2 separate regions of the Homo sapiens genome follow, and region 1 is linked to region 2. Evidence: fine-mapped expression QTL. A gene starts in region 2. The other region holds a variant in brackets. All regions are shown on one strand. Distances are between the middles of the regions. Region 1 overlaps ZRANB1 (zinc finger RANBP2-type containing 1). Region 2 holds the start of ZRANB1 (zinc finger RANBP2-type containing 1).

The links.
Region 1: its variant is fine-mapped to the expression of ZRANB1 in subcutaneous fat (FUSION, PIP 0.95).

The regions. Positions count from the first base shown.
Region 1 is chr10:124,982,117-124,990,455 of GRCh38, forward strand. It overlaps ZRANB1 (zinc finger RANBP2-type containing 1), which reads left to right. Exons shown (of 9, transcript NM_017580.3): 7 at 1,059-1,188; 8 at 1,343-1,572; 9 at 2,658-6,073. The coding sequence ends at 2,876. CTBP2 (C-terminal binding protein 2) reads right to left here. Exons shown (of 11, transcript NM_001329.4): 11 at 2,201-7,582. The coding sequence ends at 7,402. Among named protein-coding and RNA genes, the nearest start is that of ZRANB1, 44 kb to the left of the region's middle. The variant G/A (reference allele first, on the strand shown) is at 4,169.
Region 2 is chr10:124,937,826-124,946,164 of GRCh38, forward strand. ZRANB1 (zinc finger RANBP2-type containing 1) reads left to right here and starts at 4,298. Exons shown (of 9, transcript NM_017580.3): 1 at 4,298-5,482. The coding sequence starts at 4,669.

The DNA of each region.
Region 1 (8,339 bases), 44 kb after region 2:
GCTGTGCTATGACGGTTACATACAGTAGATAGTCTTGGGATTGCTCTCCGTTCCTGCAGCATAGGCTTGATGCCTATGGTACCTATCCAGGTGAGCTCTGTTCTGTCTCTGGGGACACTTAAGATTACTGGTGTAGGTACTTGCATTGCTGTTGCTGATCTGTCAGGCCCTGAGGAACCAGTTGTCAATCTTCATAATGCTCCCTGTGGTGAGGCAATACCTGTGTCATGTAGGCAAAGGAAAAGGGTAGTTTAGCTTACTCTGAACTAATTACCATCAATAGGAATGATTTCTGATTAATGTGGGAATGAAGTTTTGCAAGTTTGCTAACGTCTTTTTATTAATGAAGGCTGCTTGTGACACAGAACTGTGTAGGGTTGTCCCTTAGACTCTTGGTTTCATGCTTTATTTTGTGAAGCACTTCAGTATACCAAACTGTAAAGTACAAATATATATACAACTACTCCTTTTTTTTTGCAGAAAGCACCATGGTTCATTTGAACTTAGAGAAGGAGGTACCCGATCTTTGGGCAATTTGGGCAGGATTCATAGTGGTTGATTTACATGAGACATGTATCTCACACCATGCATTGTAGCTCGATGATGGACCCATTTAATATTAGTATTCACGAGTTAGTTGATACTGCCATTTACATTTGCATGAAACAGGCTCACTTATTTATTTCAGGAGGACTTTGTTGTAGGTAGTGCTTTCACAGTAACTTAACGAGAATGTGATAATAAAGCATCCTTAGTTATCTGAATCTCTGGTTCCTGAGGTTGGAGAGTTAGTAGTGAGGGATATTTCAAAGTATGTATGCACATCTGTATAATTTGTGAGTTTGGATGGTAAATGATATTTGCATGTAGCCTTTATAGATTTCTTTTACAGTTTTACTGGATTTATTATTTGAGGAATCAAATGCTGCTTTGACAATCTTTTCTTTCTTAAAAACCAACTGCGATAGTATACTGAAGGGGAGGTAGTATTGTTTTTTACACATCAGTTTTCCAGGAGTGGTAATAAATGTTTTAAGTTTTTGTTTTGTTTCGTACAGCCTGGAGCAAGCTTGGAGCAGACGCACATTTTTGTACTGGCACATATTCTTAGACGACCAATTATAGTTTATGGAGTAAAATATTACAAGAGTTTCCGGGGAGAAACTTTAGGATATACTCGGTTTCAAGGTAAGCCATTATTCAGGAACGTTTTACAAGTTTCTTTGAACGGAATGGCTCAGATGTCAGGAAGGAGCAGTGGACAGGGGAATGTGAACAAGGGCAGTGAGGGAGTGGCTCTTTCTTCCTGTGACTGTTGGGATTTTCTTCCCTCTCTTTCCAGGTGTTTATCTGCCTTTGTTGTGGGAACAGAGTTTTTGTTGGAAAAGTCCGATTGCTCTGGGTTATACGAGGGGCCACTTCTCTGCTTTGGTTGCCATGGAAAATGATGGCTATGGCAACCGAGGTGCTGGTGCTAATCTCAATACCGATGATGATGTCACCATCACATTTTTGCCTCTGGTTGACAGTGAAAGGAAGCTACTCCATGTGCACTTCCTTTCTGCTCAGGAGGTAAGCAGTTTCTCCTATGAACTATTTCTAGTAGTGACCTTGTACCAGAAACAGCCTGAAGTGCCTTTCAGGTGTGGTTTTATCTGCACTATCACTTAATTTCTGAATGTGATGGTAGTAATTGCTGAAGGTACTAGCTATACTTTGAAATTTACCTTTTCAAAACTGCTGTATGGGGACACATCAAGGAACTTAAGGTGGTGATGGGTTTTAAGAAGAAAAAGTAAAGATGAGGTTTGTGATTTAAATATGGCATTTTAGGGAATGAGAAGTGAGTTTTTATCTGAAAGCAGAGTTCCAAGAATTGCAAGGCCAGTGTGGTTTAAGAGGGGAAGCAACAGGGAAAGAGAGAGGGTAGGCGGCAGGGGGAGGGAGGAAGGGAGAAGAGGTCAGAGAGGATAGGGATGGGGGGGAGTTCATTGAAGGCTTTTTAAAGCTTTGGGTTTTACTCTGGATAACGTGGTAAACCAATGGCCAGTTTACCCAGAAGAGGAACATTTGGGGTCTGGTGCATGGCAGGAGCAGGAACACCAGGTATTGTAGATGAAGGGGAGTGAAAGGGTGCTGTAGACCAGACAGGGGAGGTGGTGAGAAGGTACAAAAACAACGCTCTTTCAGAAAGCCAGTATTCTTATAAAAGTATTGGTCTTTTATTTAATATACTAGTAATTATAAAACGTTTATAATCACAACATGAAGAAAAAAAGTTCATAGACCGTAACTTGTATAATTTCAGCTTGTACATAATTGACTAAGTAAACTTACCTTGTCATGTGTTTGAAGCTGTGGCTTGCCAGGATCAGTTTATTAGGACATTTGTTTTTTATTTTATCTAACAAATTACCCTCTAGTGTGCTCCTCTTTAGTTTTTTTCTGAGAAATTTCCCATTTATGTCTTTTTAAATTTAACCAGAGCAAACTGGACTTTAATCACAAAACTTCCAAGAGGTCAAAACCATGTGAAAAGTTGATTGCTTTGGCCTTTTCATGAGTTAGCATACCAGCTGTAGGTTTCCATGTCACATTCCTACCAAGTCTCTGATCTGTTGTATGATTTTCCCTTTGTCTTCATATTCCTCCAAAAGCTAGGTAATGAGGAACAGCAAGAAAAACTGCTCAGGGAGTGGCTGGACTGCTGTGTGACGGAGGGGGGAGTTCTGGTTGCCATGCAGAAGAGTTCTCGGCGGCGAAATCACCCCCTGGTCACTCAGATGGTAGAAAAATGGCTTGACCGCTACCGACAGATCCGGCCGTGTACATCCCTGTCTGATGGAGAGGAAGATGAGGATGATGAAGATGAATGAAAAAAAAAATCAAACAGCAGAAGACCAAGGCATCAGATCTGTAATGACCCTAAAGTTAGTGTGGTGCTCCAAGCAGAGTCGACATCATGGAATGAACCAAATCTGGCAGGATCTGCTCGGGGAAGTGTTTTCCTGGACCACACACACCTTATGGAGATAATGCCTCTGCTGCGTGAGGAGACAGAGAACTTTAGTTGGACTACAGTTTGTAAAAAAAACTAATTTTATTAAGACAGAACTTTTTTTCCTTCCAAATTGTAAATCTGTCTATAAATGTAACGCATGTGGTTGTGTAAGACATTGTTTAATAGGAAAAGTTGTACCAGCATCTTCATATTATTGAGAAAATTTTTTCCAGCATGGGCACTTAGAAAAAGCACATGGCAAATGGCTCTTTGTTCCTTTCAGATATTATTTCAGTAGAACCTGGCATTCTACTTTCACCTTAAAAGATCCATCTAAGTCTCAGATCTGGAAACGTTTTGTACCGATTATCCACAGCAAAACAAAAATAAGCTTTTATTTTATTAATAATTTCGTTCCTCTTGTGCCCAATCAAATCTTTTAGGAACAAACTGCAAGAAAAGCTAAGAATGTTTTAGAGTGAACTAAATACAGACATTGCTTACTTGTTTTGAAGAGGGTTTTGGTTTTGGTTATTGTGTCTTTAAGTTTTCTGATATGCCCCCTTTCAATATTTAGATATTTATTTGTTGGGAAGAATACCTTAAAATGAGGGTTCTTATTCCAGATTCTGGGCAGTGGTCTGTGAGTAGTTTTTTTCCTGGATGAAAAGGGAGCAAGCCCACTTGTCACTAAATGAATTGTGTGAAATGTGCTCACTTGGACTCCATCAACAATGTGCTGCTCCCAGATTGCCATGCCAGAGGGTCTTCGGATTCTTCCTTCTATCACCTCTGCTCTAAGCAAATCTTGTTAGAAGGGCATGCCTTTGCTTAGGCAGATTGGGAATACCAATTCACTACAGAATAAAGATTTTAAAAATGCAATAAGGTGGCAAATGCATTGTATGAAGAATTTCTCAGTGTTTAGTCTGAGAATTTTTGCATGTTGGTTAATTGTGGCCATTCTTTAATTTAAAGTTAAAACTATAATCTTAGGTAGAAAAACTTTTTTATAAGAAGTATTATTTGACCACTTCAGGTATACATTCAATACTGGGTAAAAATTTCAGACCTATCTCAGGAACACAGAAATATTTGGTGTCCTGATAAGCACTTTCTAGACTATTGATGTGGCCAGGAATTTGGAAAGACGACACACGCACGCGC[G/A]CGCGCGCACACACACACACACACACACACACACACACAGTTTTTTCCTTCCCTGTGATGAAAAAGGCTGTGAAAACCTTAAAGTATTTGCTTGCTTCTTGTTTTGTTTAGTTGATAATGAAATGTGTACAACCTCAAATTTGCTGCCAGAATACTAAAAATAGAAAAATACCCACAAAACTGTCATGTCTTTAGTTCTTTCCCCCCGAAAACTCAGTAAAAAGGTGTTCCCAGGATGAAAAGATCATTTTTTGCTGCATGCTAAATCTTGCAGGAAAAATGATTTTTTAGTACGATTCTGTAGAAATGAATCTTTGATATAATGTAAATGCTGCTGTTTGTTTCAAGTGGTGAATGTGTTGTTAAAAATTGGCTGTTTGCTTTCATTTTGGCCAATAAGTAATCAAGTTTGTAGAAAATGTTAGCATTCTGACTACTTAGCATCTGTAGTAATTTCTCTATGTATAGGGATAATTTTTTAGTGGGCAGAGATCCTGTTCTAGTTGCCTGTTAAGCAAAATCTGCCCTCCCAATTGAAAAAGCCAAAGAGAATTGTTAGAGGGAAAAGCATGTAGCCATTGCAGTCTGCATTGCAGCCAGCGTTGTCCAGAGTACACGCTCAGCACTTAGCTTCTACTGTGTGTTGTGGTCTGGTGAGTGTTGTTTCCCCTGAGCGCTCTATTATTTATTTATTTATTATCAATCAGTGACCCTGACCACATAGTGTGATAGGTGCAGCATTCTTCCCTGTGGGAAAGAATTAAAGATGGTTCCATTTCCTAGGCTACAGACAGGAATGGGGCTCTAAATGGTTTTCATAGACTGGCTGTTAAAGGCCAAAAATTTTGGTAAATCAATGCTATATTATGCTCTTGAACTATTAAAACAGCCATAATTATTGTCCCAAGATAGAATATAGTCCTTTTTCAAAGATGATTATACGTGGCTAGGTGACAGACATTAATGACTGACTCTGGAGAGTAAGTCATACCTGCACTCTGTGGACTTGATGGTTCTTTTTCTAGAGCAAACAGAGCGTGGCATTTTGTTTTGACTTGTTCTTCCTTGGGGTCAAATTTATATATATATATATAAATTTTTGTTTGGGCGACCAAGATCTAATAATTAAAACCCAGGTGGACCATGGATTCAGACCTGCCTTTTTATGTTTTTGACTCTTAGGTTCATCGTGTCCCAGACTTCTTCACATATTCGTGAAGGTAAGATATTCTGTGTGCGCTTGGCCTCCTTTTCACGCATATTTCATTGCCTCTTTGATGAGTGGTTACGAAGACGTTAAACTACCTTTTTGTTCCCTGGGGTAATAGGTCAGTAACTATGAGCGCCGTCTCTCTCCATGTGAGCTTGTGTTAATAGACACTTTTATGGTAGAGTTGGGATGGGGCCACCACCTTAAAATGAGTGAGCAGACAAGGCCAGGCAAGCCAAAGGCTTTAAGACACCATGATTTTCTTGTTTTGTTTTAATTGGGAAGGGAAGTATAAGGAAGAGCTCAGAGGGAGTTTCATACCTGGAATTGTTGGACTTAATTGACACTTGCAAATACTTTTAGTATAAAGGTTTAATTCTATTTAAAAAGAAGATCCATTAAATCAAGCTCTTAACTCATGGGACTATTTGCAACACTTCTTTGTAAATATCATTTTGTTTGTTAGGTTATTGGCAAAACAGTTTCAAGGTTCACTTCCCTCCCTTGAACCAGGTCCAGGTCATTTTGCTTTGGGGTAGATTAAAGTCAGAACTCTAAAAGTTGAGCAACTTTGTTTTTTTTTGAATTGATTTAGCACTAACCCACCATTGCATCTTAAGGATGGCATGACGTGATAATGATGGACTTGTGTGAGGTTTTGATTTTTCAATTAAACTTTTTGTTATCACAGGTAATTAATTGTCAGCGGTCTTGAGTCTGGTTATGGAACCCTGTAGTAACAAGAGCTGGAAATTGGCTAATTGACAATGCAATTGCCTTAAACATCTCAAGTAGAGAACATTTACATTAGTGAGATGTACTTGAATTTCAGAACTTAACAAATTTTAATTACTTTTTATTGAAAACTGCACTGAACGCTAAATGTCCACCTTTACAATAAACAAATACAGTAACGGTAACTCACACTAAAACAAAACATACTTCTGATAGCCATTATTTTTCTGTTTGGGACAATTTTAAAGTTTTTCTTTTGTCACAAAAACAGGAATGTACCTATACAAAGGCTCAAAATAGGCCATCTTTTTAAACAAAAAGGCAATGATTCACAAAAGACTATGAATAGAACATGTAACTAGTTGATACAAATCTAATAGGATTTGTTAAAATCAGTCACATCTAATACATCTGAAGTGTTCTTGTATAAAATATCACGTGAAGAAAAGAAGACTTTATCAATGTCTAAAAAAGTGGGTTTGTTCATAGACAATCTGACAAGTTACCATAAAAAGTGTTTCCTGAGACATAAGGAAATGCAACATTATTCTTCTTGAACCCTTTTAGCTCAAGACTTTCCACTCAATAAAATAGCAGAGGATCTGAAACTGAGAAAATATATTTGAGTACAAACAGCTTGTGAAACTTAATACTTTTTTTTTTTTTTTTGCATCATCAGAGGGTTTTACTGAACTTACAACCGACTTGCCCGCTCAGTATGCAGTTCAGATGTGAGAGGCGCTTCTCTGTACAGCAGCCTGTACTGTCTTCAATCCTATGCGTGCAGGTGTCTACCACAGGCAAACAGTTTTCTCCCCATTTTGTAGTAATGTGATTTTCCTATTAGCAAAAAGAGGTCACCAGCCCCTGTAGACTTAAGGGACTCAAGTCACAGGATGGGGATTTCCTCTTAATATTTTTTATTTTGTTGTTTGAACTCTTGATGCAACATTGTAGAGCAGGGTGTTCAGGACCTGCTGTGCCCAAGGGACTGATAAAGGAAAAAGCTCTATTTATTCTTTTTGTGATTTGATGCACAGATGAAAAACTTAACACACAATAACAGAAGTTGGTCGTTAATAAATCACATCCTAGTCTTTCAGCGCTTCCGTAAGCAGACGACATCTTCAGTTTTCTAGCTCTTGTAGTTTCAACACTGCAACATCAATGATGCATATGTCCAGAATCAGTTACAAAGACCATCCGATTCTTTTTCTCTTAGTTCATCTATTTTTCACTGTCTCTTGGTCCCAAGTGTATCTGAGTGATTACCTTCTGGCATTCTCTGCTATTGCTCGTTGGGGTGCTCTCGATTGTCCCCGTGTTTTGTGGGCTGGTTGGGAGAGGGCGCTTGGGAAGGATGTGCCACTGTCGGGAGGTTGTGAGTCACTGGGATGCCTCCAGGGATGATCCCTTCCATGGCTGCAGGAAGTCCTCCTGGAGCCACACCCACGATGCCTGGCGGATATCTAAGGAACACACAGAAATAGGGCCTTGTAAGTTCAGGGCAGAGTTGCCAAGCTCTTGGCTCTTCTACTTCTGGCCTTTTCATAAGAGACAGGAGCCCAGTGACATGAACATGGCTCACCTTGACCGACCTTCTGGGCTCAAGTGATCCCACCTCAGACACCCAAGTAGTGGCGACCACAGGCATGAGCCACCACGCCTAGCTAGTTTTTGTATTTTTTTGTAGAGATGCGGTTTTGCCAGACTGCCCAGGCTGGTCTCAAACTCTTGAGCTCAAGTGATGCCCCATCATAGGCCTCCCAGAGTCCTGGGAGTACAGGCGAGAGACACCAGGCCTGGCTAATAGTTTTTTTTTTTTTTTTTGAGATGGAGTCTCACTCTGTCGCCAGTCTGGAGTGCAGTGGCGTGAGCAATCTCAGCCCACTGCAACCTCTGCCTCCTGGGTTAAAGTGATTCTCCTGCCTCAGCCTCCCAAGTAGCTGGGACTACAGGTGTGCGCTACCACACCCGGCTAATTTTTATATTTTTAGTAGAGACGGGGTTTCACCACGTTGGCCAGGATGGTCTCAATCTCCCGACCTCGTGATCCGCCCGCCTCAGCCTCCCAAAGTGCTGGGATTACAGGCGTGAGCCACCATGCCCGGCCCTGGCTAACGATTTTTATGGGATAGTTTATCTTCCCTATCCCCAAAGCAAGGAGAAGTCTCAATTTTTATATAAAACACTGGCAACTAATTCATAAAAACAAAACTAGTCCAA
Region 2 (8,339 bases):
GCTTGATGCACAAATGGATTCCTGGTCTCCTTGGTCCACAGGATGGGAACTGTTGGTATTGCATTTGAACCAAGGAATATTTGTCTTAAGAGTAGCAGTTTTGTCCCGTTCTCCTTAAAGAAGGCCTAGATTATGTTGATTTTATTGTGGTTTTATTTTACCAATTAATTGAAGTTTGAGTCCTTGGATAGAATTTGCAAATCTGCTTTGCATGCAAAATTAAACTTGTAAACTAAATTTACTTGGGCGTATGAATATATTTAATACTTAAAGTGATATTTGGTAAGTTTTATTTCAAGGTAGAGTATTAACTTTTAGAGCTGGCTACTTTGGAAATAATTTTATGTACTTTTTGGAATGTTTTGACATCTGGAAAAAGTGTACTCTGTTAATTTCTTTGTAATACTGCAAAAAAACACATAGTTCAGTTGATGTTATCCTTACTGTTCAGTGCTGTTTACTAATTACCACAGGTAGAAATGGCTGTCTCAGATAATCTTCAATGAATTTTTTCTTTTCTTTTTTTTTTTTGAGACAAAGTCTCACTCTGAGTGCAATGGTGTGATCATGGCTCACTGCAGCCTCAAGTCCCCTGGGCTGAAGCGATCCTCCTGCCTCAGCCTCCTGAGTAGCTGGGACTACAGGCATGTGCCACCACCCTGGGCTAATTTTTGTATTTTTTGAAGAGATGTGGTTTTGCCATGTTGCCCAGGCTGGTCTCGAACTCTTGGATTCAAGCAATCCACCTACCTAGGCCTCCTGTGCTGGGATTACAGGCGTGAGCACCTAGCCACTCTTCAATGAATTTTACCTTGCAGTTACTAAACAACATTCCTGCAATGTTTCAAGTTCTCTCAGAGTGAACACTGTACATCATTACGTTTTTTTTTTTTTTTCCTTGAGACAGCCTTGCTCTGTCATCCCAGGCTGAAGCACAGTAGCACAATCATAACTCACTGTAGTCTTGAACTCCTGTACTCAAATGATACTCCTTCCTTGGCCTCCTGAGTAGCTGGGACTATAGGCACAGGCGACTGCACCTGGCTAATTAAAAAAAAGTTTTTTTTTTGGTCGGGCATAGTGGCTCGCGCCTGTAATGCCAGCTCTTTGGGACGCTGAGGCAGGTGGATCACTTGAGGCCAGGAGTTTGAGACCAGCCTGGCCAACACAGTGAAACTCCGTCTCTACTAAAAATAAAAAAATTGGCTGGGCATGGTGGGATGCGCCTGTGGTCCCAGCTACTCTGGAGGCTGAGGCAGGAGATTCACTTGAACCTGGGAGTGAAGGCTGCAGTGAGCCAAGATTGTGCCACTGCACTCCAGCTTGGGTGACAAAGTGAGACTGTCTCAACAACAACAAAAATCGTGTTTTTTTTTTTTTTTCCTTTTTTGTAGTGATGGAGTCTTGCTGTGTTGCCCAGGTTGGTCTTGAATCCTGGACTCAAGTGATCCTCCCACCTCATTCTCCCAAAGTGCTGGGATTAAAGACTTGAGCCACTGTGCTTATTATCTAATATAAGGCACATCTCAAAACTCTTGAGCTTGGTTTTGGTATTGCTTAGTTACCTGGATTTTCAGAGGTTGGTGGGCTAATTAGGCAGCTGTCTGTCCATTATTTTACCAGGCATTTATGACAGTGATTATTTTTTATGACAGTTTTTTGTTTGTTTTTTAAATCAGCCTGGACATTTAAATATATTGTGCCAGCATATTAGTTACATGAAGATTAGCTAAGATAACATAAGGTTACGGGCTGTTTAGTTGCACCTACAAACATAGTAAGACTTATCAAAACAAGTATGGATTTTGAATGTGAATATTTTAAAAGATATATTGAAATTACTTAGAGTAGCCCTGGATATATGTTCATTATGGCATTTATCTTGTTAATAAGTTTCTACATGCTCATTTTAATTTCCAGTAGCATGAGCAAGTAACTTATATTTCATTCCCGAGAAACTAAAAGAATCTGCCTAAAGAGTATGAAAATTGCCATTAAATCTGTATTGTCTACTTTCTGGATGGTTATATCATTATAGTTCTCTGCTCTTCCACACATTTTTGGGCTGCTATCAGTTTGTAAGTAATCATTATACAAACTAAATTTAAAAATTTAAACAAGATAATTTTATATTACTTGGATCAGGGAAAAAAATGCAGTTGCTGAAGGTGGTTTCATAGCTAAATATAAGCAATTATTTTGCTTTTTCTACTTTTTTGGATTTTATCATCTTTTCCCTTTTAGTAATAGAGTAATACAGGTAGGAATTAACTTAGCACTGCCAAATTAATAGTAATATTAGAACTGTGTACACAGCACAGGGTTAAGGTTATATAGAAAAATGTCTCATCCATGTTTAATTTGGCTGACCAGCCCAGTTGATTAGCCAATTTTATTGTTTTGTTAAATTAAAATTCTAAATATAGTTGTCCATTGTTAAAATAAGTGAGTAGGGTTAAAATAGAGAATTGATAAAAATAAAGCCTTAAAAATCTTTTAGCTAAAGTAGCAGGCTTCAAGTGAAATTCAGTTTTGGTCTCCTTTACAGGAATAGCTATTCAGTCAGACAGAACCACTTATCACGTTTTGCAGTATCTCCTGAGGAAGTCAGAATTCTGAGCCAGCATGAAGACGGAATCTTGTCTTTGATCTGATTTGCAAACCGTACTTTTATTCTAATCATGTGCAAGGTGGAGGTTATAGCGTGGGAACTAAAATCTTAGTAAGTGTGGTTTTTATTTTAGCTATTAAGTAGTATACTTTCTTATAGTGATTTTTTTTTCTTCTTAGCAGAGTTCACACTATAAATGGTGTATGGACTTGGCAGGCAGGAACATAATACAGTATACTTCAAAAGTGAAAGATTTAGGCCAGGCGTGGTGGTTCATGCCTGTAATCCTAGCACTTTGGGAGGTCGAGGTGGGTGGATCACGAGGTCAGGAGTTCATCAAGAGAAGCCCGGCCAAGATGCTGAAACCCTATCTCTACTAAAAATACAAAAATTAGCCGGGCATGGTGGCATGCACCTGTAATCTCGGCTACTTGGGAGGCTGAGGCAGGAGAATCGCTTGAACCTGGGAGGTGGAGGTTGCAGTGAGCTTAGATTGCACCACTCCACTGCATTCCAGCCTGGGCAAAACATAGCAAGACTCCATCTCAAAAAAACAAAAATGAAAACAACAACAACAAAAAAACAAACAAACAAAAGATTTAACCCTCTAGGTTCAGGAAAAATCCCTGAGAAAGAGAGAGCAAAGCTTCTATACTCTGCCTAGGATTTCTTTCTCTTTCCGGGTGAAAAATAGGTGTTGGGATGATACTGAGTTGATAAAAGTATTTAGGAAAAGTGGCCAGTGTCTAAATTCAAGCCATTAAAAAAAAAAAAATTAAATTTGTTATGTAAGTTGCTTCATTTATGAATTAGTTGCCATTAAATTATGAAGTCTTTCTTCATTATAGTGTAGTGTTAGCCCATTGTTGAATCCTAGAAATCTTTTAAGTAGTGTGAATATCTTTTAAATATGAATTGGATTTTTTGGGGGGCAGGGGATGGAGTCTCACTCTGTCACCCAGGCTAGAGTGCAGTGGTGCGATCTTAGCTCACTGCAACCTCTGCCTGCCGGGTTCAAGCAGTTCTCTGCCTCAGCCTCCTGAGTAGCTGGGATTACAGGCACCTACCACCATGCACGGCTAATTTTTGTATTTTTATAGAGACGGGGCTTTACCATCTTGGCCAGGCTGGTCTTGAACTCCTGACCTTGTGATCTACCCGCCTCAGCCTCCCAAAATGCTGGGATTATAGGCTTGAGCTACTGCCCCCGGCCATGAATTAGATTTTGAGTATATTTTAAATATTCAAAATTTAAAATATTTTAATTATGAACATTCACAATTATATTGGAATGATTATGCTACTGGTTATTTCAGTGACCTTCCACAGATTTAATTTTCCCCAGTACAGTCTTCTTTTTTTTACTCCAGATAGAACTAGATTTTGAGGCTACAGATTATCAAGGAACTACCTATTTCATAATGTTACTTTGTTAATTGTAGCCATTACTTCTCAACATGTTTCTTTACTACCTGTGCTAATTAAGAACAGTGGATAATTAGCATTTTAAGTTGCTTTTCTCCCTTAGCGAGAATGATAAAATAGACGTTGCTTGATCTTCTGAATTCATGAATCATAATCTGTGTTCATAATTTGAGAATGGTTATGTGTTTAAGCTATTTTTTAGTTTGTGTTGTTTCCTCTACCTTTGTCTCTTTAAACTATTGGTTACTTTTCTAAATTGATGTGATGGCCTCCCTGAAATTAAACATTTCTATTAGTGGCTTCCCGTTAATCTCATCCTTCTTAGATCAAACCTCGTTATATCTCCTGCCTATCTCTTTTGCATTCCAAAGTTCAGTTTTATTAAATCCCAGGGTCTAAGATTTTTTCTTTGAGAATTTATCTCCAGTGTTTCTATGGAAATTAAAAAAGAAAATTAGGATAATTCAATGTCGAAATGTTGCATGCATCTTTTGAGAAATTTATATTTTGTAGGTTGAAGGACTTGCTTTTTGGGCAGCGTATTTTTGGAGGTGGAATGTAGTTATTTTAATAACCATGTCCTAATTATTTATAGCTTCCTGCCTGACACAGCTCACTTCAAGAAGTGCACAATGTCAGAACGTGGAATTAAGTGGGCTTGTGAATATTGTACGTATGAAAACTGGCCATCTGCAATCAAGTGTACTATGTGTCGTGCCCAAAGACCTAGTGGAACAATTATTACAGAAGATCCATTTAAAAGTGGTTCAAGTGATGTTGGTAGAGATTGGGATCCTTCCAGCACCGAAGGAGGAAGTAGTCCTTTGATATGTCCAGACTCTAGTGCAAGACCAAGGGTGAAATCTTCGTATAGCATGGAAAATGCAAATAAGTGGTCATGCCACATGTGTACATATTTGAACTGGCCAAGAGCAATCAGATGTACCCAGTGCTTATCCCAACGTAGGACCAGGAGTCCTACAGAATCTCCTCAGTCCTCAGGATCTGGCTCAAGACCAGTTGCTTTTTCTGTTGATCCTTGTGAGGAATACAATGATAGAAATAAACTGAACACTAGGACACAGCACTGGACTTGCTCTGTTTGCACATATGAAAACTGGGCCAAGGCTAAAAGATGTGTTGTTTGTGATCATCCCAGACCTAATAACATTGAAGCAATAGAATTGGCAGAGACTGAAGAGGCTTCTTCAATAATAAATGAGCAAGACAGAGCTCGATGGAGGGGAAGTTGCAGTAGTGGTAATAGCCAAAGGAGATCACCTCCTGCTACGAAGCGGGACTCTGAAGTGAAAATGGATTTTCAGAGGATTGAATTGGCTGGTGCTGTGGGAAGCAAGGAGGAACTTGAAGTAGACTTTAAAAAACTAAAGCAAATTAAAAACAGGATGAAAAAGACTGATTGGCTCTTCCTCAATGCTTGTGTGGGTAAGTTTCTGTATTCTGCATTTTTTGCGTGGGATGGGAAAAGGTAGTAAAAATGATATGAAAAGAGCTGGGTGCGCTGACACACGTTTGTGGTCTTAGCCACTTGCTTGAAACCAGGAGTTTGAGGCTGTAGTATGCCATGATCGGTCTGTGAATAGCACTTGCACTCCAGCTTGGGTAACATAGTGAGACTGTGTCTCCACGCACATGCAAAAATGTGAGTGTGTGTGTGTGTGTGTATATATATATGCGCAAAGTCACTAGCATTTGATTCATTCAGCACGATAGCTGTACTTTCAAGTATGCATACATAAAAATTTGTGTATTTGTGATCTTGTCGTAACTTTGTACTAAATTGCCCACAATTAATTGTGTTCATGTCTCTCCATTACTGGGGGCAGTGGAAACGTTTAAGTTAAAGCAAAGTTTTTACACATCAGCAGTAAAATATATACCTGGACTTTAAAACTGCTACTCTGTTTATTGTAACAAGATGTAACTGAGGAACACCAGCTGCTGTTTCCAAGTATTTGTAAACAGTGTGAGCATCTTGTGATGATAGAAGCTTTAGTCAGATGTTAAAAATACCACAAAAATGTGTGACTCCAAGAAGTTGAACAAACATATTGACCTTGAAAATACTGGTGTTAATTTAACATGAATGTCATGTAGTAAATGTTTGCAAACTTTATGGAACTGATTACATGTAGCCAGCTGATTCCATACTTCAAGTTATGGTTCATATGTATTGTGACATTTTCCTCAGGAAATGCTGTTAAAGGACAGAGACATAGGAGAGCAGAGTTTTTCTTCAGTTCTTGACCTTGTGAGTTAATTGTGATGTAATTCACAAAAGCAGTGACTTGAGTCTTCAGTATTTTTTTTTTGAGTAGATTAGATGTTTGATTTTTATTAAATTATTTGGATGGGCTGCTTGCTTTGACATTTGGTCTTATGAGGGAAATTTTGAATGATTACTAAGTTTAAACTTTGTGTGGAACAATAGCTAAGCTTTAACTATACCTTAGCTGTATGTTTTCCCTCAGTACCAATTTCTTTTATTTATCCCTCTGGGTACAGCCCAAGAATATGGAAAGTTTAGGTGTATGAACCTGTGAGTCCTAGGAATTGATTTCCAAGAAATCGTGAGTTTTAAAATTAAATTATATATATCATTCCCCCCCCCCCCCCGCCCCAAGATGGGATCTCACTCTGTCACCCAGGCTAGAGGGCAGTGATGCAATCATGGCTCACTGCAGCCTCAACCTCCTGGGTTCAAGTGACCTGCCATCTCAGCCTCCCCAGTAGCTGGGACTCCCCATTAGCATGTACCACTATGCCCTGCTATTGTTTTAAATTATTATTTGTAAAGATGGGGGTCTACCTATGTTGCCCAGGATGGTCTTGAACTCCTGGGCTCAAGCGATTCTCCCACCTCAGCCTCCTAAAGTGTTGGGATTATAGGCATAATTTGCTGTGCCCAGCTGAAATCCTGAGTTTTCAATTTTAGCTTTGTTCTGGCAAAAAAGAATATCCCAGCAGATGAATCCTTCTGACCTCCAGACTTAGTAGGCACTTAGCAAGTCTTAGTTCTAGTTTCCTCCCATCCTGAGGATGAGGGGATGAAAACATACCGGGCTATCTTCTGTCTGTGTTGTCCCATTTTATTCCTCTGATTTTTCTGCTCCAAATTGAGGGGCAACATACAGTATGATTGTCAGTTAAAAAAATTTAAACAGGAGATACAAAAGGGTTTTGTTATTAGTTTCCTTAGAGATCAAATTGATTTAACATAAAAATTCACCGTTTTGCAAGTGAACAACTCATTTGGCATTTAGTGCATTCACATTGTGTAACCACTACCTCTGTGTTGTTCCAGAACATTTTCATCATCCCAAAAGGAAACTATGTACCCATTAAGCAGTTACTGCCCCCTACCCCTACCCGCTAACCCTTGATAACTGCCAGTCTGCTTTTGGTGTCTGTGGATTTACCTATTCTGGATATTCATATAAATGGAATCTTTACATATCTGTGAGCTTTTATGTTGGGTGTGATTGTCTTTTAATTGCTTGTATGCCTTTGGAACAGTCTTAAAATCATTTTTTTTTTTTTTTTTTTTTTTTTCAGGGAGTAGTGTACTATGAATACTTGGACTACAAGGTGGTGTTATAGTACATGTAGGTTTATAGATGAAAATGAACTAGACTTCATTGTGACGGTTCTTAACCTCACAGTGAAGGTCACTAAACCTCACTAAAGGTCATAGAATCCTTTAGGAATCAGGGCTTCATTTCAACCCCCGGTTGCTTCAAGTCAGTGGATCTCAGGATAAGAACACCTGATTTGAAATATTTTCTTTCCTTGAAACACACAAGTTAGATGAATCAACATGTTTGTCTTTATGACATTATTTCTTCTTGGTCCTGCCTTTTTCTACATATCCTTACTACTTTTGACTAGACGACTAGCCATCCTTGTACCTCTTTGCATTTTATTTATTTTTTTGAGACAGGGTCGCGAGGCTGGAGTGCAGTGCTGCAATCATGGCTCACTGCAGCCTTGACTTCCTAAGCTCAAGCCATCCGCCCACCTCAGCCTCCTGGGTAGCTGGGACTACAGGCGCATACCACCACGCCTGGCAAATTTTTGTATTTTTTTTGGAGAGACGGGGTTTTACCTTGTTACCCAGGCTGGCATCTTATTCCTGTGCTCAAGTGATCCACCCACCTCAGCCTCCCAGAGTGCCAGGATTACAGGGGTAAGCCACTGGGTCCGGCCCATCTCTTTGCATTTTAATCACTGAGTTCAATTTAAAAGTGGAACAAGGCCAGGCACAGTGGCTCAGGTCTGTTAA